Regions from separate parts of the Homo sapiens genome. Here region 1 is linked to region 2. Evidence: fine-mapped expression QTL. A gene starts in region 2. The other region holds a variant in brackets. All regions are shown on one strand. Distances are between the middles of the regions. Region 1 overlaps MRC1 (mannose receptor C-type 1). Region 2 holds the start of MRC1 (mannose receptor C-type 1).

Region 1 (16,729 bases), 24 kb before region 2:
CAAAATGTCACTGAGGGAAGTAACAATAATCATGCCTACCATGTCTCCTTTGATTCTCCTGACAACCTAAGGCAAGTAAAATTATTACCTTCACTGATAGGTGGGGAAACGGAGGCAGAGGCAGCATAGGTAATCTGGTAAGATTTTTAAAGTTCCAACCCAGATCTAATGAGGCTTCAAACCCCATCATCTTGACTATTATCTACTTTCTCAAGGATAGTGTAAAGTCTTCTTGTGTGAATATGAATAGGTGTTACCTCCACTGCATATTTCAAACCTTATTCTAAGAATTTTATTTTATCATTTTTTAAAGTCAATTTCTCTTCTTCGTTAACATGATGATTAAATACTAATCACTAAGTGCTTATGCTAACACCAAGGATGCTTTGCTTAAGCAGTGAAGAAATCAAAAATACAATGTTTCCAATTCTGTTCTAGGACTGATGTGGAAGTCATAAAACCAGAAACAACACGGACCTCAGCTCTTCAGCGGTAAACACTCTAACCTATTATTACCGCTCTTTTTTTTTTTTTTTTTTGAGTTGGAGTCTTGCACTGTCGCCCAGGCTGGAGTTCAGTGGCTCAATCTCCACTCACTGCAACCTCCTCCTCTCGGGTTCAAGCGATTCTCCTGCCTCAGCCTCTCGAGTAGCTGGGATTACAGGTGACCGCCACCACGCCTGGCTAATTTTTTTTTTTTGTATTTTTAGGAGGGATGACATTTCACTATGTTGGCCAGGCTGGTCTCAAACTCCTGACCTCAGGTGATCCGCCCACCTCAGACTCCCAATATGCTGGGATTACAGGCGTGAGCCACCATACCCTGCCACCTCTATCTTTTTTGAAACCATCAATGAGAATTCTCTGTTCTGAGTTATTTTAATTGATCAAAAGCAATTAATTAAAATAAAAACTATCCTTTGGCTTTTAAAAACATTTTTTAAATTTATTTTTATTTTTTAGAGATGGAGTCTCACTATGGTGCTCAGGTTGCTCTCCAACTCCTGGGTCCAAGCGTTCCTCCTACCTCAGTCTCCTAAATAGCTGGGACTACAGGGTACACACCACTGTACTCAACAACCTTCAAAAAAATTCTTTAAAAGAATTTTCACAAATTCTTTAAAGTTGTACTAACTTAAATATAATTATCTTTCTACTTGCACAGACGTATTCTACAGGACATGCTCCTAAAAGTAGCATTTTAATACTAGCTATTCCCAAAACCAATTTACTCAGGGATTTTAAAAAACTTAATTACGAAAATAAGTGTATTTAAGTTTTAAAAATTATAAATAATTCGCTGATTAAAGAAGAACTGAAGTAGATATTGAGACTGCGTAACTAAATTACTATGTTTGGCATCATGAGAAATGATAATAGCTCTTTAAGAGAATTACCTTTTGACATCTTTTACCAGCTCTAAGTACTTATAAACTTGTCTTGAAGAACTGAATTAGTTAATACTTTTTAAAACAAGGCCTGACATATGGTATATGCCCCATAAATATAAGTTACTACTGTTATTATTACCATTATTATTATTATTATCAATAGCTTCATATTAAGGTTGGCAAAGGTGTGACTTAGAAGCAAAATTCAAATCTTGGGTTAAAATATATCTCTTAAAGCAGATGGGTGTTGTCCACAAATAATTTTCTCTAATATGCTTTTGTAATTTTATAAAAGAGCAGACCAAAATATTTTAGTATTGCTGCACAAAGCAACAATTCCACATGCTAAATTTTTGTTGTTTGTTTTGTTTCCAGACACCAACTCAAACCAGAAATTTTTTTTGTACAGTTGGGGTCTTACTGTAGTGCCCAGGCTGATCTCGAACTCCTGAACTCTAACAATCCTCCCACCTCAGCCTCCCAAGGCTCTGGGGTTACAGGCGTGAGCCACTGCGCCCAGCCTCACATGCTCAAGGCGTAACTTTTCTGCATATATTGTCTGAAATGGTTATATACCAACTTTTGAACTTAGATGTAATAGAAGATACACAAATGTCCAATATTACACTGTTTTTTTTACTTTCTTTTTTTTTTTTTAATTGAGGTCCAATGTGTTTTTCAGGCAGTACCAAAGGAAACTGGTAAAAACCATCGGGGAAACAAGCCAAATTTCACTTCCTATATCTTATTTCAGTTCTGTAAATCCTCATCCTGCACATACGGAGCCACAAATCTGATTCAGGACTCAGAGACTCCATAGAGCGTCCCAACATTTTTCGGGGTAGAAACAGAAGGGAAGACGATAAAACAGCTGTGGGTAGTGTGCAAACGTGTTGCCAGGCAGAAACATTTCACCTGGCAGATAATATGAAATCAGATCACCACCAATCTGGAACACATTTACTGGAGCCAGGAAATGTTGACAAAATTAAGGGTTCTCATCAGTGCTTTGGGAACCAGCGGATCCCCGGGTGTTCTGTGCGTGAGACACAGGCAGGGTGAAATGGAAGACAGGGCTGAATTCCAGTTCAGCTGTTTTCTAAACAGGAGGCATTAAGCAAGTTTCCTAACTTCTCCCTCCTAGTCTGTTATCTCATCTATACAGTGGGGCTAATAATATTTATTCATGAGGTTGCTGTGGGCTTTAGAACTAAAGCCCAGAAACTAGTATGTAGTAGCTCTTCAGTAATTGGCAGACAATTTAATTAGAGTCATCAAACCAGGTTCTACATTTTTAAAAAATGATACTGACTGGCCGAGCATGGTGGCTCACGCCTGTAATCCCAGCACTTTGGTAGGCTGAGGCTGGTAGATCAGCTGAGCTCAGGAGTTCAAAACCATCCTGGGCAACATGGTGAAACCCTGTGTCTACTAAAATACAAAAAATTAGCCAGGCTTGGTGGCACATGCCTGTAGCCCCAGCTACTCAGGAGGCTGAGGCACGAGAATCACTTAAGTCCTAGTGCCACTGCACTCCAGCCCGGGCGACAGAGTGAGACTTTGTCTCAAAAAAAATAATAATAATAAATAAAATAAAATAAAATAAAATAAAAAGATACAGACTTTTCAAAACCCTCACATAAAAGAAAACTTATTTTAAAAGTGTAAATATTTTGTAGGTTGTTTTTTCATTTTAATGGCATATTTTCCAAAATAGAGTGGATTGCAATTACACACTCACACCACTGTTTTCTGGATTATTCCCCAATATATCTCAATCAACACTGAGTATCATCCCTTTCTTTCAAATAAACAGTGGGGAGGGAATATCTTTCCCCTATTTTTTAAATTCCCTGTCAGAGTTTTTCTTGTCCTAATGCCTGACATTTTTTACTTAAAGAAAGGCAGGAAGTACTACAAATCTCGTTAGAGATGCCATTCTTATCCAGATGCCAGTGAAAATTTGCTGACTGAAATTCCGGAGGCTTGGATAAGATTCAAGTAAGTATCTGAGGTGAACCCAGCCTCTGGATCTCCTGGGGCTTGTTTGCTGTCCTGATAGACACAAGAAAAGCCCTTGCTGATTAGGGAAGCATTTCCTGCAGCTCGAGTCCGATAGCAGAGTCCGGGAACCAGGAAATGAGTCTGTGCTTGGGCAAAGCCGCTGTCCGCTCAGATCACTTGCTCCTTCTCTGTAGCTGGTGGAGAGCGCACAAAGTAACCTGTGCTCTGTCCCCAGGCTTCCAAGAGATAACACACCCCACAAATAAATTCAAACACAAAAACCAAAAACACATCAACTGAAACCATTTCACCTCTGCACCTCTGATATATTTTCTTTCCTTTTTTTTTAAATTTTTATTTATTTATTTATTTTTGAGACGAGTTTCACTCTTGTTGCCCAGGCTGGAGTGCAATGGTGCGATCTCGACTCACTGCAACCTCCACCTCCCAGGTTCAAGCCATTCTCCTACCTCAGCCTCCCGAGTAGCTGGGAATACAGGAGCCTGCCACCGTGCCCAGCTAATTTTTTGTATTTTTAGTAGAGATGGGATTTCACCATGTTGGCCAAGCAGGTCTCAAACTCCTGACCTCAGGTGATCCACCCACCTCGGCCTCCCAAAGTGATGGGAATACAAGGGTGAGCCACTGTGCCCAGACCACCTCTGATACATTTTCTCTCGTGCCTGCAAGTCTGCCCAAATAACCACAAGACTGCCTCGAATCATCTTTTCTATTCCTTAATCATCTACATAAATTTACTTTTGTCTATTCTGTACTTTCTCCTCTTCCTCCTTATTTTTGTGCATGGTTGTAAATATGAATCACTCTGATCCTTTCTGTTCCACTATTAGAAGGGTCCCAAAGGCTAATGCAAAACAGAATAATTGAGCAGACAGAGGAAGAACCCTATCTCTAAGACTATGAATCCACAGTGACATCATATTGCTTTTCTATCCTCGGTCTCCTTAATAATAACTTATAGGAGAGATGTGTTCTGGTTGGTGACGGGTGTCATCTGAAAATAGCTGGAAAAAGGTAGGTGCTAAGAAATGAGGCAAGGTAGGGAGTGTGCTCTTGCCCTTGTATTGGCTCACACACATTAGCTCTTTTAACAGACAAGGTCACCAAAGCACAGGTGCCTCAGCAAATCCCCACAAGCTCCCCCAGTTTCACAGAGCTGGGACCTAGGCAGTCTGGCTGCAGAATCTTTGCTCTCAGCCTCTCTGCTCTGCTGCCTGGTGTTAGCACCTGGATACAGCAGGAACTAACACAGTGTTTTGCCAGATATGGTCTTTCAACCAGCTGCCCCAGAATCACCCAGGAGTTTGACAAAAGGCAGATTCTTGTGCCCTGTGTCACACCTACTGATCTAGAGTCTTCGGGATCTCAGCCCAGGCATCATCACTTTAACAGAATTCCAAGGTGATGAATAAGCCACTTCACACAGAAGAACCACTGCATTTACTGTCTTCTTGCCATGACTGTCTAGTTTTCCAAACAGGAGACTGAATTTCTAAGTATTTTTATTTTGTTGCATGTTAACATGTCAGTCAGCAAATGTTTGGTGAGACCCTTCCTTGGAAGGCTCTGTGTGAACCTCCTTGGGGGAAGAGGGGTCATAAATATTCACAAGACATTCCCCGTTTTCAGCTATTTCCCCCTCTGACGCGATCTCCACATGGCCTTCAGTTTGCTTTCCATGCAGGACTTATTATAATTGGTACCTATTCATTTGTTTGTTTTCTTGTTTACATCTGTTTCTTCCCATTGGACTTTTAAGCTGCATGTGGACAAGACAGGGTCAGCTTTGATGTCCCCAGGACCTAGCACAAAGCCTGGCACATGGGTACAAGATATCTTGGGAATGAATGAATAAGTAAATAAATAATAACAAATTAATGTATTTATAGTGTTGTCAAGGAAGCAGGACATATGTGTAAGTAGCTATTATACTAATAAAAGTGGTAATAAGCAAATAAGAGAAATGCAGATGGAAATAGAATTGCATTTCAACTGTACACAATCGTGAGAATTCCAGGCAAAAGAAATGACATGGGAAAAGATGTGAGGGTGAGAATGGATGAGGAAAAACAAGGAATCCAAGACTGACTTTTCTTTTGTTGTGACCGCAAAATGCAAGACCGGGAATAGTACAGATGTTCAGCAGGTGGCAATCTTGAATGTCAGGCAAAATGTATTTTGTTAATTATTTGATGGGAAATGAGAAGCCACAAGGGGTTTTTTGAACATGGCAGTCATAGGAGCAGAGACAGACTAATATTAATATAGCCGTGTCCAGAAAAACTGGAGGGAGGAGATTTTGGGGGCAAGAAATCGGGGATGCTTTTGCTCCCACACTAATTTCTGATCCTAATCTCTCTGTTTCCCCAAGTGTATATTTTAGAAGCTAAAACGGATACTCTCTTCTCAAGCAAACTTTAGCCCTTTTAGTCTTCACAATCTAATAAAAACAGATATTTTAAAAACAAACACATTGGCCAGGCACGGTGGCTCACGCCTGTAATCCCAGCACTTTGGGAGGCCAAGGCAGGTGGATCACCTGAGGCCAGGAGTTCATGACCAGCCTGTCCAACCTAGTGAAACCCCGTCTCTACTAAAAATACAAAAAATTAGCTGGGCATGGTGGCAAGCACCTGTAATCCCAGCTACGTGGGAGGCTGAGGCAGGAGAATCATGTGAACCCGGGAGGTGGAGGTTACAGTGAGCTGAGATTGCGTCATTGCACTCCAGTCTGGGCTACAAGAGGGAAACTCCGTCTCAAAACAAAACAAAACAACACAACACAAAACAAAACAACATCAAAACCAAACACATTGTGGAAAGAGTATCAATAAAACCTGAAAACTGGTAGAGCCTGGGGGTTCGAGGGACAGGAGGCTAAAAGAACTCAGGGTTTCAGGGTTTCAAAACAGCCTCTGACTTGTCTCTGCCAGTGGTAGCAGTCTTTTAATTTATCATTTTGACCTCTATGAGGCTAATGAAAGACCTGTGGCTTCAGGTTAGACCTGGATGATGGATACTTGACCAGGATTGTTCCACTGCCTTGCGTCCAAGAACGACATCATTAATCGATTGTGGCATCTTTTACTCTGATTCTAGATTAGCCCTCAGAATCCTTCTTAGCACTGGCTCTAGAGACTCTTAAAACCAATAGTTGGCACAGGAAATGAGAGCTATTTGCCATCCCTGGTGTCATTTTCAGAGTACAGATTTGTCATGACATCCACATAAACTGCTTAAGAATTGCTTCTGTCATAACATCTATAAACACTTGTGCTGTTGACTTCTAAGTTAAATTATATAAAAATAAAGCAGTCATGATTTTACTTGAGACTTTTCATGTCCTTACCTGTCAGGTATGTTTGCTCATGAATCTCTGTGATGCTCAGGAGCTCAGCGTTCTGTTGTTGGCAGCTTTTCCTCGCCTGGTGCCACGTTAAAGCGGATTTGGAGTTTATCTGGTAGGAAACGCTGGTCAGCGGGTCTTTATTCCATAAGCTTTCACTGCCCTCAACTGTGAAAGAAATCAGATGGAATTTGGTTCATTATGCATAGAAAACACTTCCAGTGAATAGTATTATTTAAACCACCTAGGAGCATTTTTGCCTGAAGCACTTTCTTTCTTTCCTTTCTTTTTTTCCCCCTTTCTACTTTTTTTTTTTTTTTTTGAGACAGAGTCTTGCTCTGTTGCCCAGGCTGGAGTGCAGTGCTGTGATTCTGGCTCACTGTACTCTCCAACTCTTGAGGTTAAACAATCTTCCCACCTCAGTTTACCGAGTAGCTGGGACTCCAGGCATGCACCACCATGCCTGGCTAACTTTTTAACTTTTTGCAGAAATGTAGTCTCTCTATGTGGCCCAGGCTAGTCTAAAACTCCTGTTCTCAAGCCATTCTCCTGCCTCAGCTTCCCAAAGTGCTGGGATTACAAAGGTGAGCTACTATGCCCGGACTGTTTTACTTGTTTTTAAGATGACTTTGAGATTTTCTTTACTCCTGAAATGAAATAGGAAGTAGGGGATGAGGTTTCAAAGGATCAGCTACATCCAGTCTTTTCCACATGCCTAAAGAAAGAAAGGCAGGCACGATTTCCCTTTCGGGATCAATTGAGTTGGGAAGTGAGACAAATATAAAGACAATAGACCTTGGATACTACAAAAGGTGGGAGGGTGGGAGGGTGAGGATTCAAAAATTATCCATTGGGTACAATGTTCACAGTTCGGGTACCCAGACTTTGCCATGATGCAATATATGCATGCAAGACATCTGCACATATACCCCCTACATATATAAAAATAAAAATAGCCGGGCACAGCGGCTCACGCCTGTAATCCTAGCACTTTGGGAGGCCGAGGCTGGCGGATCACAAGGTCAGGAGATGGAGATCATCTTGGCTAACACAGTGAAACCCCATCTCTATTAAAAATACAAAAAAAATTAGCCGGGCGTGGTGGCGGGCGCCTGTAGTCCCAGCTACTCGGGAGGCTGAGGCAGGAGAATGGCGTGAACCCGGGAGGCGGAGCTTGCAGTGAGCCGAGATCGCGTCACTGCACTCCAGCCTGGGCGACAGAGCGAGACTCCGTCTCAAAAACTAAATAAATAAAAATAAAACTTTTTTTGTTTGTTTTGTTTTGTTTGAGACAGAGTCTCGCTCTGTCGCCCAGGCTGGAGTGCAGTGGTGCAATCTCGGCTCACTGCAAGCTCCGCCTCCCGGGTTCACGCCATTCTCCTGCCTCAGCCTCCCCAGCAGCTGGGACGACAGGCACACGCCGCCACGCCCGGCTAATTTTTGTATTTTTAGTAGAGACGGGGTTTCAAGGTGTTAGCCAGGATGGTCTCGATCTCCTGACCTTGTGATCCACCCGCCTCGGCTTCCCAAAGTGAATAAAACATGTTTTAAAAGAACGGATACCAGCCCAAATTCCTTGATCTAGTAAAGTAAGGCAGGGGAAGCAAAGAAAATAAACGTACATCTTCTCAGCAGGTGGATATTTTGCCTTTGCCTGCACATTCTAGTTTGGTCTTTCTGGAAGCATAAGATTGTCAGCAGGGAAGGTCACGGACTCCTGCAGACAGACTGGCCTGGGCCTGCACCTGAGGTCCTATCGCTCACTGGAGACTTGACTTCAGATAAATTATTAACTTTTGAAGTCTCGTTTTCTCATTGCTAGAATATATTTAATACAGGTGGAGCGCTTAGCAATAGCAAATGTTGCTTGTAACTTTTTCATTCCACAGAGTAAAAAATCACAAGCTGATTTCTTCCTTTGCTATTTTATGATTCCTAATAAATTCCATAAACCTGGTTGTACTCTGTAAGCGGCCAATGATATACAAATAAATATTATTGATAGTTTTTCACATATATGATGTTTGCGAAGCTAGTAAACAAATGAAATATTTTGGCATGCTTCATGTAGTGAATATTTCTTTTTTCTTTTTAATAATATAAAATTCTGCTTACAAGCCATGTGAAGTAATGATCTTTTCATTTATTTGTAAGGAAAAAAGGAAGTATTATATAACTTCTCTGAAAATGTTCTGAGAAATACTCAATTTACTAAGAAATTAGGCAATTTTCCATAAGCACATAGCCTACACTCTTGTAACTCTTAACTGTATCTAATTGCCCTTTATATCTGATGAGGAAGCGATCATAGACCTTTTTGTAATATGCAAACCACACACCATGATATGAAACTTGTGGTCCCATGACATATCAAAGAGGAAGAAAACATATCAAAATTTGATTCAGGCAACAGCATACAAATTTTT[A/C]AGGTGCTTTAACTACAAAATCATTATATGCTTATATAAAAATAAATTTGAATCAGTAATGCTAAATTTAAATTATAATGATCTGAGGTGTTGCAAGTTTCATGTGTATGTCGGTGAGACCATTCAAATAAGACTAATTTGGGGTATATTTGAAGATAGAGATGTTTTAAACAACTCGTTTTAGACAACTGGAGGAAGGTTTTGTTTATAATATGGTAGAAAATGCGGGCGCCATGGCTCACGACTGCAATCCCAGCACTTTGGAGTCTGAGGTGGGCGGATCACAAGGTTAGGAGTTCGCGATCAGCCTGACCAACATGGTGAAACTCCGTCTCTACTAAAAATACAAAAAAAAAAAAAATTACCCAGGTATGGTGGCACGCGCCTGTAATCCCAGCTACTCAGGAGGCTGAGGCAGGAGAATCACTTGAACCCGGGAGGCAGAGGTTGCAGTGAGCCGAGATCATGCCACTGCACTCCAGCCTCAGTGACAGAGCAAGACTCTGTCTCCAAAAATATATATATATATATAGTAGAAAATGTGAGACATAAAAAAGGGTTTTGTTGTTGTTTTTAAACCTAGGAATGGAGGCAAGTGACATAAATGACGTAAGAAGGAAATGCAATTGACCTTTCACTTAAAGAAAGTACATTTTAAACCAAGGGATTTAAACATATTTCTCAATTAATGTTTAGGTTTGCTGATTGCATACCATCTCCCCAAGGAGTTCAAATTCCCACAGTAAACCAACACAACTGATGCTGGAAGCTAAACTTGCTACAGAGAACTGAGAGAACCAAGAATTTTCCTTTACCTGTTCTCACGATACTTGAAAATAAATGTCTACATGGAAGGAAAGCATTACAATAAACAATGCAACGGACAATGGAGAGCATCTACTAAGTGTTACTAGGTTAATAACTGGTTCCTCATCCTCCTGTATAAAACCTGCCACTTTTAAGGCTGATATAAAATAAAATGCTCGTCCGGGCACGGTGGCTCACACCTGTAATCCCAACACTTTGGGAGGCCGAGGTGGGTGGATCATTTGAGGTCAGGAGTTCGAGACCAGCCTGGGCAACATGGTGAAACCCCTTCTCTACTCAAAATACAAAAACTAGCCAGGCGTGATGGTGGGTGCCTGTAATCCCAGCTACTCAGGAGGCTGAGGCAGGAGAATCACTTGAGCCTGGGAGGCAGAGGTTGTGGTGAGCCAAGATCATGCTAATGCACTCCAGTCTGGATGACAGAGTGAGACCCTGTCTCAAAAATAAATAAATAAATAAATACAATAAAAACTCTTTTGAAAAGAACACAAAATGAAACAGACTGGAAGACTATAAAGCCCTTTAAGAAAGATATTAAATGTACAAAACGTGATTTAAAATTTTAATGCATATTGAAACCAAATCAATTTATTTTCTACGATTATTTTACATTTAACAGGAAAAAATATATAATTTGACAGTGAAGGCATAAATACAAGTAATAAGACTAAAAAATTATTCCACTGAACAAACTCAAGATACGTCTCCAACACACATCCAAGGATTTCCAAGATTGTGAGTTTTCTTTGTGATTAGTAACTTACCACTTGTCCTCCACATTTCATTCAGGAAATCACACATTCATCTAACTCCTTTGTCAATTTCAAAGGATGTGGAGGATGCTATAGTTGGACCCATGAAATATATACCCTTAAGAAAGTCCATGAAACAGATTAAGAAAATATCATTCCTATTAAGTAAAGGAGAAAGACACTTTCAATCACTTGAAAACCAAGTATTGCTTTATCTTAGAAAAAAATTGCTCAATGTGTTTCAGACAAAAATACTTCGAATACAAAATTCGACATCTAAAAACCTTGAATGGAAATCAAATGTCTTTCTAAAGATTGACATAAGAGAGACAAATAGAACTACCTCAGTTAAGACCGAGGCAGCAGTGTCGCTATGAACAGAAAGCCTATGGGCTTTTGTGAGTATTCATTCGGATTGGAGAGACTGCACTCTGAAGACAATTACAATAGTATATGGGGCTCAGAAATTAAATTTACTTTTAGTGTGATAATTAGGGATTATAAATCCAGAGAGATAAATAAGTACAATTCTTAGAATTCTGGCTTTTGTTCGTCAAATTCAGGTATTTTTTAAGTTGTTCTGTTTTACAATAATGCTTGAAATAGTGTGATTACTTGTGGATTTGTGGTCTGGAAAGTTGAGTTGTGATAGTCGTGATTCTATTGTTACTCAGGTGGTGTCACAATCATCCCAGACCATATCGAATGCTCTTTGCTCTGCCCAGTCCCTTTGCAGGGCAGCAGGAGAAAGAGTTCTGGGTGATAACCAGGAAACAAGAGCTACTCTGATCTGGTCTAAAGTAGCAGGTGAGAGGTCGGGGGTAAGAAGTTTGGGAAGGGTGGAGCCAGCATCAGGAGGAGGGTGTCTGGTGATGGGGAACGTGAAGCTAAGAGGAATACTTCCTTTTCCTTTTTCCTCAGCCCCAGCTCTGCCTTCAACATGACGCCCTCCTCCACTCCACCTAAAATGTGCTTCACTATTTGCCTACAGATTTTTAAGCGTGGAAGAACACCAAGAATTCATCTGTTCTGGTGCTTTCCCACTAAGATAATGCGATACTGCTTATTTTGCATCCTTGCAATAAAACCTGAATTTTCATTTTTAAGAAACCTTGAAGCATATAAATTACCGAGTTCCATTGATTTCTAGCTGTGTGAAACTAAATGGCACCCTTCTTAATTTAAACATAAGAAGAGTATCCTGACTATCATTTTCACTGTGAAGAACACTTTTGATGACATTGACACAAAATTCAGGACCTTCACGTCTTTCTCCATCAAACCACATGCTTGTGGCTTCCTTTGAATTCTGTTTTTGATCTATGGTTTCATAAAGGTAAGGCATTTCAGAGATGAGGGAATAATAGCATGCCTACCTACCTCCCGTGTTAAGTATATACTATATTGTGTACAGGATAATTTTCGCTGAGTAACTGATAGTTGGTAAAAATAAAGAGGTCATAGTCGGGCGCGCCGGCTCATGCCTGTAAACCCAACACTTTGGGAGGCGAGGTGGGCGGATCACGAGGTTAGCAGATCGAGACCATCCTGGCTAACACAGTGAAACCCCGTCTCTACTAAAAATACAAAAAATTAGCCAGGCGTGGTGGCGGGCGCCTGTAGTCCCAGCTACTCGGGAGGCTGAGGCAGGAGAAGGGCGTGAACTCGGGAGGCGGAGCTTGCAGTGAGTGGAGATCGCACCACCACACTCCAGCCTGGGAGACACAGCGAGACTCCGTCTCAAAAAATAAATAAATAAATAAAGAGGTCACTTGATGGAGGGAATGTTGGGACCATGGGGGTACAGTCTAGTCCTCTTAGCATGATCTCAGGGAATGCTGAGACAGTAGGGGTGACTCTAGTCTTACTGGCAAAATCAAAATACACATACAAAGCCTACAGTATAAAGTCCAACATCTGTGTTCTAGTCTTCAGCCAATATAGATCATTTTCTCCATTGGAAAATGGAAATAATAACGTCTGTAAAGGGCTGTAGTAGGTACAATGAGGTCGTAAATGTGAAATAACTTTGGGGAAAAATGCTCTAGATAAATTCAAGGTCTTTCACTACATTATCAGACTAAATGTGCCCAACTTTTCTTGGTGATAAACAGTACTTACATTTCAATGGACAATATCCAAATAGCTTGTCTGTGTCATAGTCAGTAGTGGTTCCGCACCAGAGCCATCCATCCGACCGCCCAGCACTCGTGCAATCTGCGTACCACTTGTTTTCAAACTTGAACGGGAATGCACAGGTTGCTCCATTGGCATTGCCTAGTAGCGTATACATGGCTGGAAAAACATATTGACTTGAACTTGGAATGTGAGTGATATTTCTGAACATTAACTTTCCAATAAGAAGCCTACTGAAGGAATTGGTCTTACTGTTCTGATTACACTTGATGCACCCACAGAGGGATTTCTTTTTTTTTTTTTTTTTTTTTTTTTTTTTTTTTTTTTTGGGTATTTTTTTTCCTTCTCCTTCTACCCTAGTCTTTTGCTGGGTACATAGAGCTGTCTGTACTTAGCAAATAACTCTTAGTACCACTTCATTTCCACTGCGTTTTGGGACATTTTCAAACGAGACTAATTTGTTAAGTTGTACCATTTGAAAATGTTCAAATGGTACAATTCAAAGTGGTACCAATGACAGTGGAAAATGAAGTGATACTAGTTAAAGTGGTAATAATAACTCATAGTACCACTTCATTTTCCACTGTCTTTTCCTCCTTCCTCTATTGACACCAGCTTTAACTTCTGAATTTCCTCTGAAACAGTTCTTTCTCTTGATTGGAATCATGGAGCTTTGGAATCTCTAGATTAAAAAAAACCTTAAAGCTGTATAGCCCAAACACATAGTCAATAATTAAATCCCCTCCAACCACTTCTTGTCAAGCCAGCCTTCACCTGAGTTCCTCAACAATGACCATAAGGAAGGATAGACATTTTGGCATTGTTCTCTAATCCCTATCATGAAAAGAAACCACTCAAAACTGTTATATACCATCTACAATCAAGGTTTTTCTTTTCAACAAGTTAAGGCCAACAGATTGAGTGGGAAGCTCTGGGTTCAACTAGAAATGTTAATTGAAACAAACACAGAATCATTGTTGATTATGGTTTGGCTTAAGCCAAAAAGGTTAAGGAAGCTCATCTCTCCACTAAGAACCAAACAATGCACATAGCTACATTGTCCAGTATGTTTAAAGTCTCCATCTTTGTAGAGATAACAACTTTTTACATTAAAGTATTTGACCTCTTGCCACCAACTGACATTCAGAATTTATCCTAGGTAGGAATTCATTACATTTTGCAGATTCTACGACTTGAAAAAGTTCTTAGCTTGTCTCACGCTTGCAATCCCAGCGCTTTGAGAGGCCAAGGCAGGCGGATCACTAGAGGTCAGGAATTGAGATCAGCCTGGCCAAAATGGTGAAACCCTGTCTCCACTAAAAATAGAAAAACTAGCTGGGCATGGTGGCAGGCACCTGTAATCCCAACTACTCAGGAGGCTGAGGCAGGAGAATCGCTTGAACCCGGGAGGCGGAGGTTGCTGTGAGCCGAGATCACGCCACTGTACTCCAGCCTGGGTGACAGAGTGAGACTCTGCGTCAAAAAATAAATCTTAAAAAAAAAGGAAGAAAAATTTCTTAAAAGACATTTAGTCATTTTGATAATATAAAGCTTGTAAAACATGTAGCGCATAGTAAGAGCACAATAATGTGAGTTATTGACCTCTTTTCTTTTTCCTTTACTCATTGTAATTATCAAGTCCTCTTTAAATATTAGGTTTATTTTTAATGACCTCAAAATTCCTTTTTTGTCAAAAAGGTAGTTGTTAATAACTTTAAAATGCGATTCCAGCTTTAGTTCCACTAAGTTATGGGAATGGTCTCCAAATCATATATTGTATTAGGAACACGCTGTATTCAGAAATAATTGCGCCATTCTTAGTCACTGGGATGACTGTTTCTTCGTACAAAGGAAACCAGTCAAGACCACCTTGGGGTTAGTTGTACTGGTCATCATTAGCCAAGAAATGTTCAGCGCTGGATTTACAGATGCCAATGACATATAGCTTTATTTACTTATTTTATTTTTGAGACAGGATCTCACTCTGTCACACAGGCTGCAGTAGGTGGCGCAATGATGGCTCACTGCAGCCTCAATTACCTGGGCTCAAGTAATGCTCCCACCTCAGCCTCCTGAATACCTCGGACTACAGGTGAACACCACAGTACCAAGCTTATTTTTACATTTTGTTTAGGTCTCACTAGGTTGCCCAAACTGGTCTTGAACTCCCGAAATCAAGTGATCCTCTTGCCTTAGCCTCCCAAGGTGCTGGGATTACAGGCGTGAGCCACCACGCCTGCCAGCTTTATTAACTAACTCTGTTTAATAACTACTGAGCCATTCTATACACCCAACACTGATGAGGCCAAAAGAACCCCAACTACCCCACTGACACATCATGTAACTGCAGTCAATTTGTCTTCTTCTTGGAGTCTGAACTTCCAAATAACCATCAAATCCATCTAAGTCTACAATTCTGGTTCCATTCTTCTAAAATAATTCCTATTTTCAAAAAGTTCCACCATTCTACCCCTCCCCCATGTTCTCATCAGAGATACAGAGACCCTACAATACATCCTCTCGACACTGTCTTCAGTTCTAATGTGTGTTCCCAATCTCGTGGTCACTCTGCAGAGCTAGAACTGAGGAGCAGGATCATCTTAAGTGCTGGGAGATCTTTGGGGAGTATGCAAAATGTAGTCAATAGACCCTATGCCACAGAATCACCCGGGTCTTCATAGAAATCATTGAATAGATTCCTGGGGTTTTTCCCAATATGTATATTAAGAATCTAGTAGAAGGGGGAGCTTAGGATCTATATTTTTAACAAACTTTCCAAGTGATTCTTAAGCATATTAAAGTTTGAGAACTATTAGCCCAAACCCTATGTATATTTGTCTCAAAACCAATGGGGAAACAGAAAGGGTAGGGGGTGAGGGAAGCATAATATTATATTTTAAAATAAAATAAAAATCCGATTTCTTAGCGCCAATCTTCCTCAAGTTAAACTCCTCAATTAGCACAATTGTCCCACCTGTGGAATTTGACTCCGTCAAGTTTAATTCACCCTTCTCCTTCCTTGTAATTTTCTGTTGAGTTTCTCCTGAAAGGTTTTTTTTGTGTTCACTTAGCTTGCCCCTCATATCACTTCTAAACCTATATTATGTTTGAAAAATGCTTCAAAATAACTTATTTCTGAGCCCTTCTCTCACCGTACTTCAATTCCTACTCTCCCTTCTTCTGTGCCTAGATGGAAAATGGAAAGCTCACAAATTATTGCCTTATAAAGAACTAAATTGCTATGCTCAGTCTTAGCTGAGATAAGCTAGGTTCAACCAATCTTAGTAGCCCCGTAACATAGCAATTTTGGAAACAGGTTATCTCTTGTCCCCAAAAGTAGGCTCTTTCTCTGACCTTGAGGTTGTTCTAGATAACACTTCACAATAACGAAGTATCCAAACCTAAAATGTGATTATAACATCATCTGACTCAAGAGACCAGCCTTTGTAACAAGCCTTCAAGTTGTGTTGTATTTTTGTTTTGTTTTCTGTGCAGCCACCAGATAGTGAAATTTGGTCAATATAAGAAAGAACTAAATACTCTGATTTTATTTAACCTTCAAGAGGTCAAGAAACCAACTACATATAAGAGGATTCCTCCCACCGCATTGGAGGTATCACCTTCTCTGATGGCTAACTAAATAGACTGCATATTAATTTACAAGCTAATCCTAGAGATTTTATAATCTTCTGATTATTACAGTCTCTAAATACCCATAACCTGACAAAATAAATCAGTAACATTTAGAATCCCATGTCGCCAAGGGATCTGCCGAGATTTCATCTTAGGCAATCTAAATTGGGAAAGAATGTTCTATGGATCATT
Region 2 (16,729 bases):
AGCAAAGAAAATTTGGTTATTAAAGGTGATTGTTCAGGGAGATAAGTATGATATGCTACATTTTCTTATACATTTTTAGATTTTCCTGACTATCAGCAAATAAAATGCTGACATTGGAACACAAAAGACAATAACTTCTGGAAGACAGAGAAGCCAGATAAGAGGAAAAGCAGCAAGTAGCTGTAGCAGATGCCTCCAGATTTATACTATTTCTCCTCGGCCTTCGCTGTTTAGGTGCATGCAGGCCCCACTCCCAAACGCCAGCACCACGCCTTTTGCCCTGGGGGCTTTTTCTGGCTATCAGAGCCCTCTAGGCTCAAACATGGCACAAATTAGATGGGTCAGAAAACGAATGCCCTGTAGGAGGAAGCCTTCATCAGAGGCCAAGGAGAACCGCTGACGGCTCTAAATCTCTTGTACCTTGGATGTGATGAGTCCAAGGCAACCATTCCACACCGTCGCCCAGAGCTCCTACACTCCATTGCCCACAGCGGTCACTGGGTGTCCACACACCTTCCCTTTCTGTCTCACTTCCCCGTTACCCTGTCAGTGTTTCCTGGGCTCACTTCCCAAATAAACTAACTTGCCCTCAAACCAGAGTGCAATTGTCTGAGGACAGCTTCTTGGGGAATCCAAACTAAGAAATATGTTCACCAGCCTCAGTTAAATAAATGTACCTATGTTTTCCCCAAAGACCCCAAATTCAGTGAAAAACAAATATTTACCCTGCACCTAGTACATTCAAGAAGCTATGCCAGGTGCTGGGGGCTGATGGAGGGTGTTAGTCAGTCTTAGGCTTAGAAATGTTGAACAGGAGGCCAAGGCAGGCGGATCACCTGAGGTCAGGAGTTCGAGATCAGCCTGGCCAACATGGTGGAACCGCGTCTCTACTAAAAATACAAAAATTAGCCTATGTGGTCGCACATGCCCGTAATCCCAGCTATGGGGGGCTGAGGCAGGAGAATCTCTTGAACCCACAAGGCGGAGGTTGCAGTGAGCCAAGATCGTGCCACTGCACTGTAGCCTGGGCGACAGAGTGAGACACCATCTCAAAAAAAAAAAGAAAAGAAAAAGAAATGAAATGTTGAACAAAAGAAAAAAAAACAGAGAATTACTTCATTTGTCACTTTGATCCTTCATTCAGACCCAAAATATTCAGGGAAACTACTGATTTAGGTCATTGCAACTGGCCATTTGGAAAAGTACATAATATGAACCCAGTATGGGTCTGACCACAAGGACAAAACAGAGGCCAAGAAACTCTTCCAACTTCCCTCCTACCACCTTAAAGATATGAATATCTACACCTTCCCGGGGCCATTCGCTCCCAAGTCAGTAGAAGAGGCTTCCTTCCTCCTGCTGACCGCCCTACCTGTGTCCTGGACTGTGAACCCTCCTACTTCTCCACAGCTAGTTTCTGCTCTCACTCCTATTTCTTCAGCCTCTGAATGCCAGCCTCCCCAGATCCCCCTTAAGATAAATAAACAAAACCCTTTACTAGGTAAGAAGCTGACACCACACTGCTCTTTCTTCTTCCATGCATAGCCCCACTAATTCGTTCACCTTATGTATGTATCATGTCAATCTGATCATGACATAATCAGAGCTCTAGGATTTGGCTCCCAGGTAACAGACTCCGCTGCTCGCTGACTGTGTGACCTTGGCCAAGTTCAACATTACTCTGTGCTTCCACTTCCCCATCTGTAAAATAAAGGGGGAAATAGCAGGACCTCCTCATTGTCGTGAGAATGAAATGAGATCATCTAAATAAAGTGCTTAGAAGAGTTCCTGACACAGGAATTGCTTAATATATATTCATTATTATTATTGTTAACTTGGCAAAATCAGTCGTACAGACAGTGTGAGATGTTTCAGAATAAGATGAAATGAAAGAGCAGAGAACTGTTGCAGCAGTGCAGAAAGAGGGACCGGCCAGGCACGGTGGCTCCCGCCTGTAATCCCGGCACTTTGGGAGGGCAAGGCAGGAGGGATCACCTGAGGTCAGGAGTTCGAGATCAGCCTGGTGAGCATGACCAAATCCCGTCTCTACTAAAAATACAAAAATTAGCCTGGCAGGGTGGTGCACGCCTATAATCCCTGGAGAATCACTTGAACCCAGGAAGCAGAGGTTGCGGTGAGCCGAGATGGCGCCACTGCACTCCAGCCTGGGCGACAGAGCGAGACTCTGTCTCAAAAAAAAAAAAAAAAAAAAAAAAAAGAGGGACGGAAGGACCGAGAACACGGAACTGCAGGGTTTCTAGCCTCAGGGGATGTGGTGTGGAGGGTTATCTTCTTTGGGGTTGATAGGCTTGCAATCAAATCCTGGTTCCACCATTTTTTAGCTGTGATGCCTTAGTGCTATTAGCCATTCTAGCCTCTACTTCCTCATCTGTAAAATGGGGACAATAATGCTGTCTGGTAAAGCTACCGTGAATTTCTAAATGAGATCATTTATGTAAAGCACCCAGCATATTATCTGCATCTAATACACACTTGATAAATATTAATTCCTTCCTTTCCCCCTCTTGAAGTGAAAAGTCTAAAAAAATTGATACAGATAAAGGGATCTAAGTCCTTCTTCTAACATAGTGTTATTTTGAACCACATTATATCTTTCCTGATCAACACACTCCAGGTAGTAAATTTATCTACTTCTTAGCCTCAGAGTCTAAAGATCATAATGAAGAGTTAGCTCTGGTCTTTACTGACTACCTGACTTCTGCAAGCCACTGAATCTTCAGAGCTTCAACTTTCTCACATAGGGAAAGGTGCACAATGACATCTTCCCATCTGCTTTATGGGAAGCTATGGGTCCCTGAGGTCTAAGTTTCTACTACAGTTATTCATGTGCAATATTTGTAGATTAAACCAAAAGCTGCACAACTGTCAAAACCTAAGGTTGAGCATGGTGGCTCATGCCTGTAATCCCAGCACTTTGGGAGGCCGAGGTGAGCAAATCACTTGAGCCTAGGAGTTTGAGACCAGCCTGGACAACATGGCAAAACCCCATCTCTACAAAAAAACACAAAAGTTAGCCAGGCATGGTGGCATGCACCTGTGGTGCCAGCTACTTAGGAGGCTGAGGTGGGAGAATCACTTGACCCCGGGAAGTCAAGGCTACAGTGAGCAATGATCATGCCACTGCACTCCAGCCTGGATGACAGAGTGAGACCCTGTCTCAAAAAAAAAAAAAAATATATATATATATATATAATGTGTGTGTGTGTGTGTGTATATATATATATGTATATATTTATATATATAAAATCTAGCCCTATGTTCCAAAGCATAAAAGTTAGCTCAGCCTTCTAGATACAAACACTGAGAAAGATGGAGAACAAATTTAAAAAGGAGAAAGGTGCTTGTATTTTTCTCCCACTTAATTCAGTTTTGTGAAAAAATACACTGAAGAATCAATATTTACCATAAGACATACATTTATATTGGAATCAAAGTTTTCAAGAGTGCTTGTGAAAAACCACTACTGTGATAATCACATGATAATAATTATCTTTCTTAGCATTTCAACGAGGGAAATGAAATAGAGGAGTATCAGGATTATACCATTAGCGTGATGTCTATGTCAGAACCACAGTTGGATCCCTTCCAGCCAAATGTGAGACCCGCAAATGGCAACAGGAATAACCTAATTTGCACTTACTTGATCTAACAGCGCAGCAAGAAATCTAAGGGGATGTGGAAAAGTACAAGCCGTTGAGCAAAGTCCTGGATCTACATCTACCTGCTAAACAGTCACCTTCTGGACATTTTACCTCCCTGAGCCTGGTGCTTCATCTATAAAATGATGATGTCAAAATGCATCATTTCCTAGTTTGTTCTTGCTTTAATGGTCTATGATTCTAAGGCTTCTCTGTCCACCAAGACGTCTCTCATTATCATTTTTTGCAGATGTTCTAGGCTTTTCATGATACTACCTGACCCACTGTTTGAGCGCCTTCCCAGAGCCTAGAAAGGCTCCATATTGCCCTGGGACCAATAGCAGCAGCTAGCAAGAGCCTATTGTTGGCCAGGTGTGGTGGCTCATGCCTGTAATGTCAGCACTTTGGGAGGCTAAGGTGGGCAGATCACGAGGTCAGGAGTTCAAGACCAGCCTGGCCAACATGGTGAAACCCCATCTCTACTAAAAATAGAAAAAATTAGCCGGGTGTGGTGGCGGGTGCCTGTAATCCCAGCTACTCGGGAGGCTGAGGCAGGAGAATTGCTTGAACCCACGAGGCAGAGGTTGCAGTGAGCCAAGATCACACCATTGCACTCAAGGCTGGGTGACAGAGAGAGACTCCATCTCAAAAAAAAAAAAAAAAAAAAAAGCCTACTGTTGGCATCTCTTCCCAACTCTGCCCCCAGGGGCATCAAGTCAGTAGCTTGAAATCAACCATGGTGGGAATATTTACAGCATGGACATCAGTAAACAGCAAAACAGCATAAGTCAAATCAGTGCTTCCTTTCTTTTCCTTCTTGGAACCAGTAGTTGTTTGCCAATACACCACTACCTGTGAGCCAAACCCTCCCATTTCCAAGTTAAACTTCTTTGCTGTGGTCTAACCTCTGTGTCCCACCGGCTCTCATGGTGCATCTACCATGATTATAACCCAACTGAGCTGGAAACCTTGCTGCTGAGTGCTAAAAAGATAGTGCGGCAAGAACAACAGTAGGAAAGGTGAGCGTCTAGCCCTGTTAACCTCTAGACTCCTGGACCCCTCCAGGGAGAACCAGCCCATCCGTTGGCAGCAGCCCACAGAGACTTATGGTGCTAATGCTGTGGGATGCTCTCCTGAAGGTGGAAGGAAGGGGTGTGGATTGAAAAGAAATAAACTGATGGCAAGTAGGGAGACCTTCCCATGGGTTTTCCTAGTGGGCAGGAAGCCAGGGGAGAGGTGTTGGGGCTTCGCATAGTTTAACCTGCTGCTAACTAAGCAGGTGCCCTGCCTTTACACAAATTCCTCCAATCACATGCTTCTCGGGCCAAGAAAAGATAAAATAAAAGTTACAGGCTGGGTGCAGTGGCTCACATCTATCATCCTGCACTATGGGAGGCCAAAGTGGGAGGATCACCAGAGCCCAGAAGTTTGAGATCGGCCTGAGCAAGATAGTGAGACCCCATCTCTACAAAAATAAAAAAAAATAAAAAAAATTAAAAATTAGCCTGGCATAGTGGCTCAAGCCCAAAGTCCCAGCTACTGGGGAGTTGGGAGTGGGCCAAGGTGGGAGGATTGCATGAGCCCAGATGTCAAGGCTGCAGTGAGCCATGATCACACCACTGCACTCCAGCCTGGGTGACAGAGTGAAACCAGTCTCAAAAAACAAAACAACACAAATTACAGGCTTTCACGTAGGAAAAAAAAATCTGGAAGGGGGGTCCCTTGAATTTTTTGTTTGTTTATTCTCCAAGTAAACAGATCTTCAGCATCCCCCTTCTCTCCCCAATATTTGTGCCTATGAAGAGGAAGACATTAGTCAGAGGAGGGCATCCTGCTGTCAGGAAGAGGGAAACACTCCTGAGCAAACCGAGAAACACTATTGCTCAAAGCATTATTGAGTCAGTTTAAAGAAAATTAGGCACTGTGTCTGTGCTGCCCAGTATGATAGCCAGTCACCTCATGTAACCATTGTACACTTAAAATGACACTACTGTGAATTGAGACATGCTATAAGTATGCAATACTCACCAGATTTTGAAGAGTTAGTTTTAAGAAATGAATGGGAAAATATTCCAAATCGATTAAATGTTGAGGGATAATATTTCCGAGTTACTGGGTGAAATAAAATACATTAATAATATCAGGGCTGGGCGCTGTGGCTCATGCCTATAATCCCAGCACTTTGGGAGGCTGAGGAGGGCAGATCACTTGAGGTCAGGAGTTCGAGGCCAGCCTGGCCAACATGGTGAAACGTTGTCTCTACTAAAACTACAAAAATCAGCTGGGCATGGTGGTGCATGCCTGTAATCCCAGCTACTTGGGAGGCCGAGGCAGGAGAATCACTCGAACCCAGGAAGTAGAGGTTGCAGTGAGCCAAGATCATGCCACTGCACTGCAGCCTGGGCAACAAAATGAGAATCTGTCTCAAAAATAAAAATAAAATTAATTTCATCTATCCTTTTTATTTGGCCTTTTATGTACTTCTTTTCTGCCACTGATTTTAATAGCTAACACTTATAAGGCACTTACTATGGGTCATACTCTGTTCTAAACATTTCACATATTGTTACTCATTGAATCATCACAAGAACTGATGGGGGCAGGTAATATTATTCTTTCCATTTTATAGACATGGAAACTAAAGCACAAAGAAATAAAGTAGCCTGCCCAAGGTCGCAAAGCTAGTGAGTGAGAGAGACAGGATGTAAACCATACCGCCTTCACTTGTGTTTTTGTAATCACTACCACTCAATACTTATGATTTAACATTTGCGGTACTAAAACACTCTCTTCCTAGGAAACTTCCCACCCGCCTTCACATCAGTGCATAGAGTAGATCGTAGGCACAAACCATTCTCTGCAAGTGTTTGTTGATTTCATAGAATTAAAGGGGGATCAGAAATCAAAAAATCAAATTTGAAATCTCTTCTAAATCATCTCCAAATAGAACCAGGAATGAAAATCCCCCGAGGCACTCCCATCCTGAAGTTTAAGCAACTGAGTATAGAGAAATAGAAAAGACAGACTGGAAAAGGTATTTGAGAATTTGAACAACTCTGGAGCTGTTCCTAATGAGTAATCTCTAATCTCCAGAAAAAGAAGAAAAACAGGAATCGATCTGCTTATGCGGCAGTTTGAATAGTCTAGAATACAGATAAGGATGAACTTTCTAACAATCAAGTGTCTGAATGATTCTGGCAGAAAAAAAAATGAGTATGGAAATTGCTTAGAATCTCTTTTGGGGGGATGATCTGCGATGATACCCTCGGACCTAAGACGCGGGGAGACATCAGGGCTGCCCTCCTTCCAGCCAGAGACACTCAGAAGGTGTTTGTTGGCGGTGAGACAGAAATAGTGTGAATTGAAAACCAGAAAGAGTAAACCACAGAGCAGGAAATTTCTGCACGAAGAAAACAGGGAAGGAACAACGAGCGATGAGAGAAGTCAGGAGGACACTGAAGGTCTGTAGGGTTCCCGGCAGGGCAGCAACCGAGACCTGAGACGCATCCTCCTCCCTCCTCCAACTCCAGGCCTCCCATGCCTGGCCGCCAGGTGAAGGCAGCAGGCTTAGCCGTGGACTGCGTGGTGCAGGGGAACCCCGTTTCCTCCTCACAAAGATGTTGAAAGGAACCCATTCACAGTAACCCAGAAGAGGAAGGTGTGGTTCCGGCCCCCCAGGTCAGAGATCCCCTGCCTCAGAGCAGACTTACCCAGTAGGAGAACAGCACCCGGAATGACAGAGGCAAAAACCAGGAGCAGGGGTAGCCTCATGGCCCAGGGTTTATCCTTTCCTTCTCCTGATGGACAGGAGGGCGGAACTAAGACGCAAAACAACGAGGCCCCCCAACTGCCTCTCCACCTAATCCAAGTTCCCAGAGCTGCCCAGCTGAAAAGAACTACAGAGGAAGCCCTCCCTTTTAAAGGGCTCCTGAATTTAGGGAAAGCCTCTACTGAGGAGACATCCTGTCACATGAGGGTGGCTGGAAAAACAGGAATTCAAAGTAACAACTTTGCTTCGTAAGCTAACTTCTGAGAAGAGCAGACGCAGAGGAAGGGGAGAAAGGGACACGTGTGGGAGAGGAGTGGCGGGGTGGGGAGGAGAGAGGGCGATGGTGATGGTGAGGAGTCAGGAAGGAGAGAAGTGAAACAGCCTGGGAGCTCCCGGCCTGCTCAGATGGGGCTGGGTGGAGATCAAGCTGCAGGCCATTACCTGTGCCGGAAGACGGAGCTTCCCCTGGGAAGCAGCTGAGTCAGGGGTCCCTCAGCAGACAACCTCCACTCTGAAGTGACAGCCACACGGGCCCTGGAAAGGACAGTTTTACGCTGGAAACACTTCAGAGTTGAAGCTCATCCCCTTCAGTTTCCACATTCAGTGCTTAGAGCCTTTCTTTTTTTTCTTGGAAAGTTTCAACAGAAAGTTCCGTGGAGCTTCATTTCCTCCAGGCAGAAGAAAAGTGAAAAGGAGGCTACACCTAAGAGGGAATGTCAGTCAGGCCAGGAAGGAGAAAGTTCTAGAAACCTTTTGCTAGAACGTTCTCTAGAAAGCCAGAAAAAACAGTGGTAAAGGATTTGCAGTAAAGCCTTGCTGCCCAGCCTCAACCATCCCGGTCCTCTTCAAGTTTAAGTGGGTCCCCTTGCTAGAAAAAGAAAATCTGGCCAGGCACAATGGCTCACGCCTGCAATCCCAGCAGTTTGGGAGGCCGAGGCAGTCAGATCACCCGAGGTCAGGAGTTTGAAACCAGCCTGGTCAACATGGCAAAAACCCGTCTCTACTAAAAATACAAAAGTTAGCCGGGTGTGATCATGCACACCTGTAAGCCCAGCTACTCAGGAGGCTGAGGCAACAGAATCGTTTGAACCTGGGAAGTGGAAGTTACAGTGAGTCAGGATCGCACCACTACACTCCAGCCTGGGCGACAGACGCGAAACTCCATCTCAAAAAAAAAAAAGAAAAGAAAAAAAAGAAAAAGAAAATCTGATTGTTTGGTCAAAAGGTATATCTTTATTTAAAGGCAAGTGGAATTCTTTCTTAGAATAAAATATGTTTCTAGATCTTTCATTAAGCAGAAAATAACCCTCCAAACATTTATGTTGTCATTTTTCAAAAGTAGAACAGGAATTTAGAACATTTTAAAGCAGAAACTAACGATTAGCTGGCCAAACCGTTACTAGAGTGTGGAATATGTTAGTAATTCAAAAAGAAGCTACTGGAAACATTGTAATTTTTAAAATTTTTTAAATGAATAGTTTTATCTTCAAACGGAAAGCCTCCACATTCGTTGTCTTTGTGATAAAGTTGAAAAGTTTCCATCCTATTAGAAATGTGATGTAGTTCTCTTACTGATTGTTTTTAACATGTAAATTTGAGATTATCCTGACCGGAGGGAAAAAGATAGTGAAAATGTAGGACAGAGGACCAAAGTTTCTTTGTCACTAAGGCTGTACATGACTGAAAAAAAAAATGATGGTTATAGAACAGAACAGACAAAACAAAAATGTTTCTCAGACATTGTTTCACTGGCTTATGAAAATAATAGTTTAAATGGGTCATTTGTGGCTTTCAAATATAAATAAATCATATACAAAAGTGACTGCCTAATTTACATTTATATATATTTCAGAAGCAAATACATTTAATTGAATTATGTATATAATCACATTCAGGGTTGGTTTGTTTCTTTGAGACAGAGTCTTGCTCTGTCGCCCAGGCTGGAGTGCAGTGGTGCAATCTGGGCTCACTGCAACCTCCACCTCCCGGGTTCAAGCGATTCTCCTACCTCAGCCTCCCAAGTGGCTGGGATTACAGGCGCGTGCCATGATGCCCAGCTATTTTTTGCATTTTTAGTATAGACGGGGTTTCACCATGTTGGCCAGGCTGGTCTCAAACCCCTGACCTCAAGTGATCCGCCCGCCTTGGCCTCTGAAAGTGCTGGGATTACAGACGTGTGCCACCATACCTGGCCCAGGGTTTGTTTTTTAATTACATAAGTGTGTATATCACATTAGTAAAATTAAAAATTAGGATCAGTACTAAAATCTGTGAAGTTTAAACAAAATGCAGCCAACCACCCCACAAAGAATTTACCCCATGACCTTGACCTCGTTGAAACAAAGATTTATCAGGCTACAAGAGGCCACTGGGGCAAAAAATAAATCCAAATCTTGGGGAAGGGATGTCACAGAAGATGGTGGTGTGGGAAACTCCAGGAATTCATCCCTCCATCTAAGCAGCCATCAAATGGACAGGAACTGACTGAAGTAACTGCAGGTGCTCCTCTACTCATGATCAAATTAGGCCCTGTTAAACCCAATGTGAGTTGAAATATGCTAAGTCAAAAATGCACTTAATACACCTGACCTACCAAACATCACGGCTCAGCGTAGCCTACCTTAAACGTGTTGAGAACACTTACATTAGCTTCCAACTGGGCAAAATTGATAGGGACAGGAGGCAGAGAAGTGCTAGGTAGAGAAGGGCAGGATCCCTGGCGAGGGCTCCACCCTCGGACCTGTGCCCACGGACCTAAGTGGGAACAGGCACTCCTGTTTTCATGCGCAAATGTTACATTTCCAAGACCACTATGATTCACCACACCCCGCATCCTGTGCCCATAAAAACCTGAGACCTTAATGGGCATAGACACAAGCGCTAAACATTGAGAAGAGTGAAGGAATAGAGCAGTGGAGAGCAGTGGGGTGGCGCAGCAGAGAAAGAGAGAAGAAGGACATCTGGACACCAAGGGGAGTTTGGCCAGCAGTGGTTGGAGAATAGTCTGGGGGGTTAGGCAGCCTGGCTCCAGGGGAAGACCACCTTCCCACTCCACTCCCCACTTCCAGTTCCCCATCCATCTCGCTGAGAGCCACCTACACCACTCAATAAAACCTTGCACTCAACCCTCCAGCCCACATGTGATCTGATTCTTCCAGTACACTGGGCAAGAACTCAGGCTGTCACACTGCCTCCCTGTCCTTGTGATAAGGCAGAGGGTCTATTGAGCTGACTAACACAAGCTGTCTGCAGATGGTATAGCTGAAAGAGCACACTGTAACACACGCCCACTTGGGCTTCAGGAGTCCTAGATGCTGCCGTGGGGTGGAGCCCAAAAGCACTCCCCACAGCCTCTGCACCTGCCCATCTGCATGCTGCATGCTCCCCCCTAGGGGTTTGAGCAGCAGGGCACCAAAGGAGCAAGCCTCATTCCTGTCGCACCCCCTGCGAGGGTCATAAGGGAACTCTTCTATTTCAAAATCATCTAACAAAACCTATTTTATAATACAGTGTTGAGTATCTCGTAATTTATTGGATATGGTACTAAAAGTGAGAAGCAGAATGGGTGTATGGGTATTCGAAATACATTTTCTACTGAATGCACCATTTCTATTTCACATCATCATAAAGTGGGTAAATCATTATGTCTAACAATCCTAAGTCAAGGACCATCTGTATTTGGGAACTAGTCTAGTCAGAAACTTGGAGCATCCAAGGGAGAGCTTGATAAAGAGGCTGGTACATTTCAGCGAATTTCAGCTTCTCCCTGTGGTTATGGCTGTGTCAGGCAGCTGTGAAGGGGGAAGCAGCCCACACGCCCAGTGCAGCTAGGTGAGGCCAGGCCGGGCAACAAGGATTTAGCCCTCCAAATGTCAGGACTGTGTGTTCTGATTGGTGCTTTTATTTGCTTTCATCACTTCTCTTCAACTTAGTACTGGAAGTTCTAATAAGAGCATGTAGGAAAGAAAAAAATAAATAAAAGCATCCAAATTAAAAAGGAAGAAGTGAAATTATCTCTGTACACAGATGGCCTGATTTTAAATGTAGGAAGTCCTAAAGCTTACACACACACACACACACACACACCACACACAAATACCACATACACATACACAATAGACACATACACACCACACACACACACCACACACACATACATACACACGCCACACACACACACATACACACCACACACACAAACTGTAGCACTAACAAATTTAACAAAGTTGCAGGACACAAAATCAAAACACAAAAATCAGTTGAATTTTGATACACTTGTAATGAACAATCTGAAAATAAAATTAAGAAAATTCCATTTGCAATAGAATCAAAAAGAACAAAATACTTAGGAATAAATTTAACTACGTAGACAAAAGACTTGTCCACTGAAAACTACAAATGGTTGCTGAAAGAAAAAGACCTAAATAAATGAAAAGATACCCTGTGTTCATGAAATGGAAGACTTGATATTGTTAAGATGTCAATATTATCCAATATAATCTATAGATTCATGCAATCCCTATCAAAATCCCAATGATTTTTTTTTTTTGCAGAAATGAAAAACCCCATCCTAAAGTTCATATGGAATTTCATGGGAGTCTGCACAGCCAAAACAATTTTGAAAAAGAATGAAGTTGAACGATTCACACTTCCTGATTTCAAATCATACTACAAAATGACAGTAATCTAAACAGTGTGGTACAGGCATAAGGATAGCCATATAGGCCAATGGAATACAATAGAGAGGCCAGAAATAAACCTATGTGGGCAGTTGATTTCCAACAAGGTGCCAAAAGCATTCAATGAGGAAAGAACAGCATTTGTGCTGGGAAAACTGGCCATCCACAGGAAAGAGAATGAAATTGGACTCTTACCTTACATTAAATACAAAAATTAACCCAAAGTGGATCAAATGCCTAAACATAAGAGCTAAAAACTATAAAACTCTTAGAAGAAAACGTCAGGAAATAAAATCTTCACAACATTGGATTTGACAATGATTTCTTGGATTGGATACCAAAAACACAAGCAATAAAAAAGTAGATAAAAAGGCCTTTATCACAGTTAAAAACTGTGTCCACCAAAGTACACTATCTAGAAAGTGAAAAGACAGCACAAAATAGAAAATATCTGTAAATCACATATCTGATTAAGGGATGAATATCCAGAATATATTAACAACTACAACTCAATAACCACAACAAAACCAAATACAAAATGGTCGGTGGACCTGAACAGATAATTCTCCAAAGAAGATATACAAGTGGCCAATAAGCTAAGCACATGTAAAGATGCTCAACATCATTAGTCATTAGGGAAATGTAAATCAAAACTACAATGAAATAGAATTTCACACCCAAAAGAATTATTACTTTAAAAAAACAGAAAATAACAAGTGATGGTGAGAATATGAGAAATTGGAACCCTCGGGCATTGCTGGCGGGAATGTAAAATGGTGTAGCCACTGCGGAAAACAGCTTGGCAATGCCTCACAAAGTTACACTATAATTATCATACGATCCAGCAATTCTACTTCTAGGTATATACCCAGAAGAACTGAAATTAGGGACTCAAACACATATTTGTACAACAATGTTCAAAGAAGTTTTACTTATGATAGCCAAAAAGTAGAAGCAACTCAGGTGTCTGTTAGCAGATAAACAAATGTGGTATGAACATACAGTGGGATATTATAGAGCCGTAAAAAGGAATCCTGATACCTGCTATATGTACAACCTTTCAACATTTTGCTAAGTGAAATAAGCCAAACATAAACGGACAAATATTATGTGATTCCACTTATGTGAGGTATATAGAATAGGTAAATTCAGAGACATAGGAAGAAGAGAGTTTACTAAGGGGTGGGAGGTGGAGGATGGAGGAGAATGGAGAGTTATTGTTTAATGGGCACAGAGCCCATTGGATGTTGGATGATGAAAAGTTCTGGAAATACAGAGTGGTGATAGTTAAACAACATGGTGAATATGTTTAGAGCCATTGAATTGTACAGTTGAAATGACTACAATAATAATTGTGTTATGTATCCTTTACCAAACTTTTTTAAAAATCCAACTCATGCCATCCTGTCTACACCCTTCTACTAAGTTCTGGTTCTGAATTTTGGTTAGCTATTGATGATGGTGGTTATTTTTAACTAGTCCTTTCTTCAAGCTAAAATATAAAGGAAATTCTCATTTTTTTATTGGCAAGACAATCAACTGTGTCATTTCCTCCTAGACTTTCTCAAACACCAGCCACCTCCTACCCACTCAGTTTCACGTATGATGAACTTAGTGTCTGCTTTGCTCTGAAATAGTTCCAAGAAAAATAGCTGGGCAAAATTTTTCATAACCTGTTACATCATTTCTCACAGATAAAACTGGTAAGCCCTTCAGAAATGGTGTTTTCAGTAAGCCTATCTTTTAATGAACAAATTTATTCAACTCTTATCAACATAATTCCTACCAGCCAAAAGAAAAAAAAGATATTTTTGAGTAAAAATTTAAAAATTTAGATGTTCTTATACCTCATATTTTTCAGTCCTTACCAAAACCATAGCAAAACATCAACAATGCATTTACAGTTTAATAGAAAACTACTATATCATAGCAATCCAATTTCTTTGCATTCAATTACTTACATAAAATTAGGCTTTAATTGTAACTGTCTTCAGATAACATATTTAGACTTATTGTAATCAACAGTGTGTAGATTCATAGTATTTGAAGGACCTTTGAATTTTGTATTTCTATAACCAATACTTTGTTTCATTTGGTTTTGTCTTGGCACACATCGTTTTAATATACTAAATTTTACAAAGTAATTTAATTAAAAGGCTATTTGACCCATTTAATTTTTGAAACAAATTTTTTTTTTTTGAGATGGAGTGTCGCTCTGTCACTCAGGCTGGAGGGCAGTGGCGCAGTCTCAGCTCACTACAAGCTCCGCCTCCTGGGTTCACGTCATTCTCCAGCCTCAGCCTCCCCAGTAACTGGGACTACAGGCACCCGCCACTACGCCTGGCTAATTTTTTGTATTTTTAGTAGAGATGGGATTTCACCGTGTTAGACAGCATGCAGGATGGTCTCGATCTACTGACCTCGTGATCCACCCGCCTCGGCCTCTCAAAGTGCTGGCGTGAGCCACTGCGCCCGGCAGAAACAAATTTTAAGAATAAGATTAAACATGTGTTTATAATCTGAAAGTGACCTATACTTTACAGATGGAAACCAAGACACAACAATGTTGGGCTGGTTCTTCAGAACAACACTTACTATGTAAGATTATGTATAATTTTTAGCAATTTGAAACGCAAATTTTCTATTTATTCACTCAAATATTCTGAACACCTCTAAGGTATCTGAGTTAAATATTTAAAAGAAAAAAGTTTTGTAGAGAAAGAAGGCATTCCTTAAAAATCCATTATTTCCATTTCAATATAAGAATAATTACAAGTTAAAATAAAAAATAATCTTATTAAAAATAGGCATATCTTGGGAAATTAAGATGTGTGTATATATAAATGCACACTTTCACAGCAAGTGTTACTTTAGTAAATATTATCCTCAAATTCATATAAAACCATACCTAGTCTATAACAGGCACTCAAATTTGTCAAATGACAAATTAATGAAATTTCCAAAAAATAATCTTCAGGATATGGTAATATATGTAAAAGCTCTTGTAAATAATTGTTAATACAAATATCTCAGGTTACTAAAGCTATTAATCACTAGTACTCAGGGATGTAGAGGTTGTGCATTGTTCAACCTGAAGGGGCGCTGTATGATTTAGAATTCATTAATTAATCTCACCTGTAAACATTGGAAACACCTTTCGAATGCAGTTGGATCTGGTTCTCAGTGTCTCTGTGTGGGCAGGTGTACATGGCTCTCTGTTTCTCTATTTTTTCACCTTCTGACTCTACTGTTTGTGTGTTTGGATTCGATTACTACAGAGCACAGAAGGTGGATGTGAGACAGACAACCAGGAAGCTGAACATTGTATAAGAGCTGTGACGGTTAATATTCAGTGTCCACTTGATCGGATTGAAGAATACAAAGTATTGTTCCTGGGTGTGTCTGTGAGGGTGTCGCCAAAGGAGATTAACATTTGAGTCAGTGAATGGGGAGAGGCAGACCCACCCTCAATCTGGGAGGGTACCATCTCATCAGCTGCCAGCACAGCTAGGATAAAAGCAGGCAGAGGAACGTGGAAGGACTAGACTTGCTGAGTCTTCTGGCCTCCATCCTTCTCCTGTGCTGGATGCTTCCTTCCCTCCAACATTGGACTCCATGTTCTTCAGCTTTTGGACTCTTGGACCTACACCAGTGGTTTGCCAGGGGCCCTCGGGCCTTTGGCCACAGACTGAAGACTGCACTGTCGGCTTCCGTATTTTTGAGGTTTTGAGACTCGGACTGGCTTCCTTGCTCCTCAGCCTGCAGATGGCCTACTGTGGGACTTCACCTTGTGATCGTGTGAGTCAATACTCCTTAATACACTCCCTTTCATATATACATCTATCCTATTAGTTCTGTCCCTCTAGAGGACTGACTAATACAAATGCATCCTCTCATAATGAAACAGCCATCACAAGAGATTTGTTTAAACATAGAATTTTAATTAACATGTAAAAACAGCCCCATTGTAAAACAAAATGTCTTTAGCCATTTCATTTTTTTCTTCTATTATTTACTATATCTTCTATGGAGTATAAGTAGCCATTTTTAAGTTTTGTAGCTTCTAAGTGGTATATTGCTCTTTTTGTGAACAACTATTGATATATTCACTATGTAAGGCCCTGCTCCAAGGTACACAGCACAAGGCAATTATGTATTAGGCAAACAGCATAGTGCCCAGAACATAGTAGGACTTCAGCAAGCAATTTCATTTCCCTTTTCTTTCCTATGCCTCATTGCAATTGTCATTCAGTGAAATGGGGCCCTAATAAGAAAAACAAGACGAGATAACATTTACACATTGTAATTTCAAACATTAACTTTTAGAAAGAAAAGGCACTAAAAAGTGTATTACAGGTATTAGAATTTTTTGTAAAATTATAAAATAAATAAAATTTTATAAAAATTACAGCATCAATAAAATTTTATAAAATTATAAAACTACTTTATAATTATAATGCAATAAAATTATTAGACTATATATTAATAGCCTAATCATAGATTAATTTTTAAATGCACATTCCTTTAACTAACTGTACTTGACTTTTTTTTTTTTTTGAGACAGAGTCTCAATCTGTTGCCCAGGCTGGAGCATAGTGGCGAGATCTCAGCTCACTGCAACC

Evidence for each region. PIP is the estimated chance that this variant, and not a neighbour inherited with it, causes the effect.
Region 1: its variant is fine-mapped to the expression of MRC1 in whole blood (INTERVAL, PIP above 0.99).

The regions. Positions count from the first base shown.
Region 1 is chr10:17,823,876-17,840,604 of GRCh38, reverse strand. MRC1 (mannose receptor C-type 1) reads right to left here. Exons shown (of 30, transcript NM_002438.4): 3 at 12,890-13,063; 4 at 6,766-6,930. Among named protein-coding and RNA genes, the nearest start is that of MIR511, 13 kb to the left of the region's middle. The variant A/C (reference allele first, on the strand shown) is at 9,189.
Region 2 is chr10:17,800,167-17,816,895 of GRCh38, reverse strand. MRC1 (mannose receptor C-type 1) reads right to left here and starts at 7,548. Exons shown (of 30, transcript NM_002438.4): 1 at 7,370-7,548. The coding sequence starts at 7,430. It overlaps TMEM236 (transmembrane protein 236), which reads right to left. Exons shown (of 4, transcript NM_001098844.3): 4 at 16,028-16,729.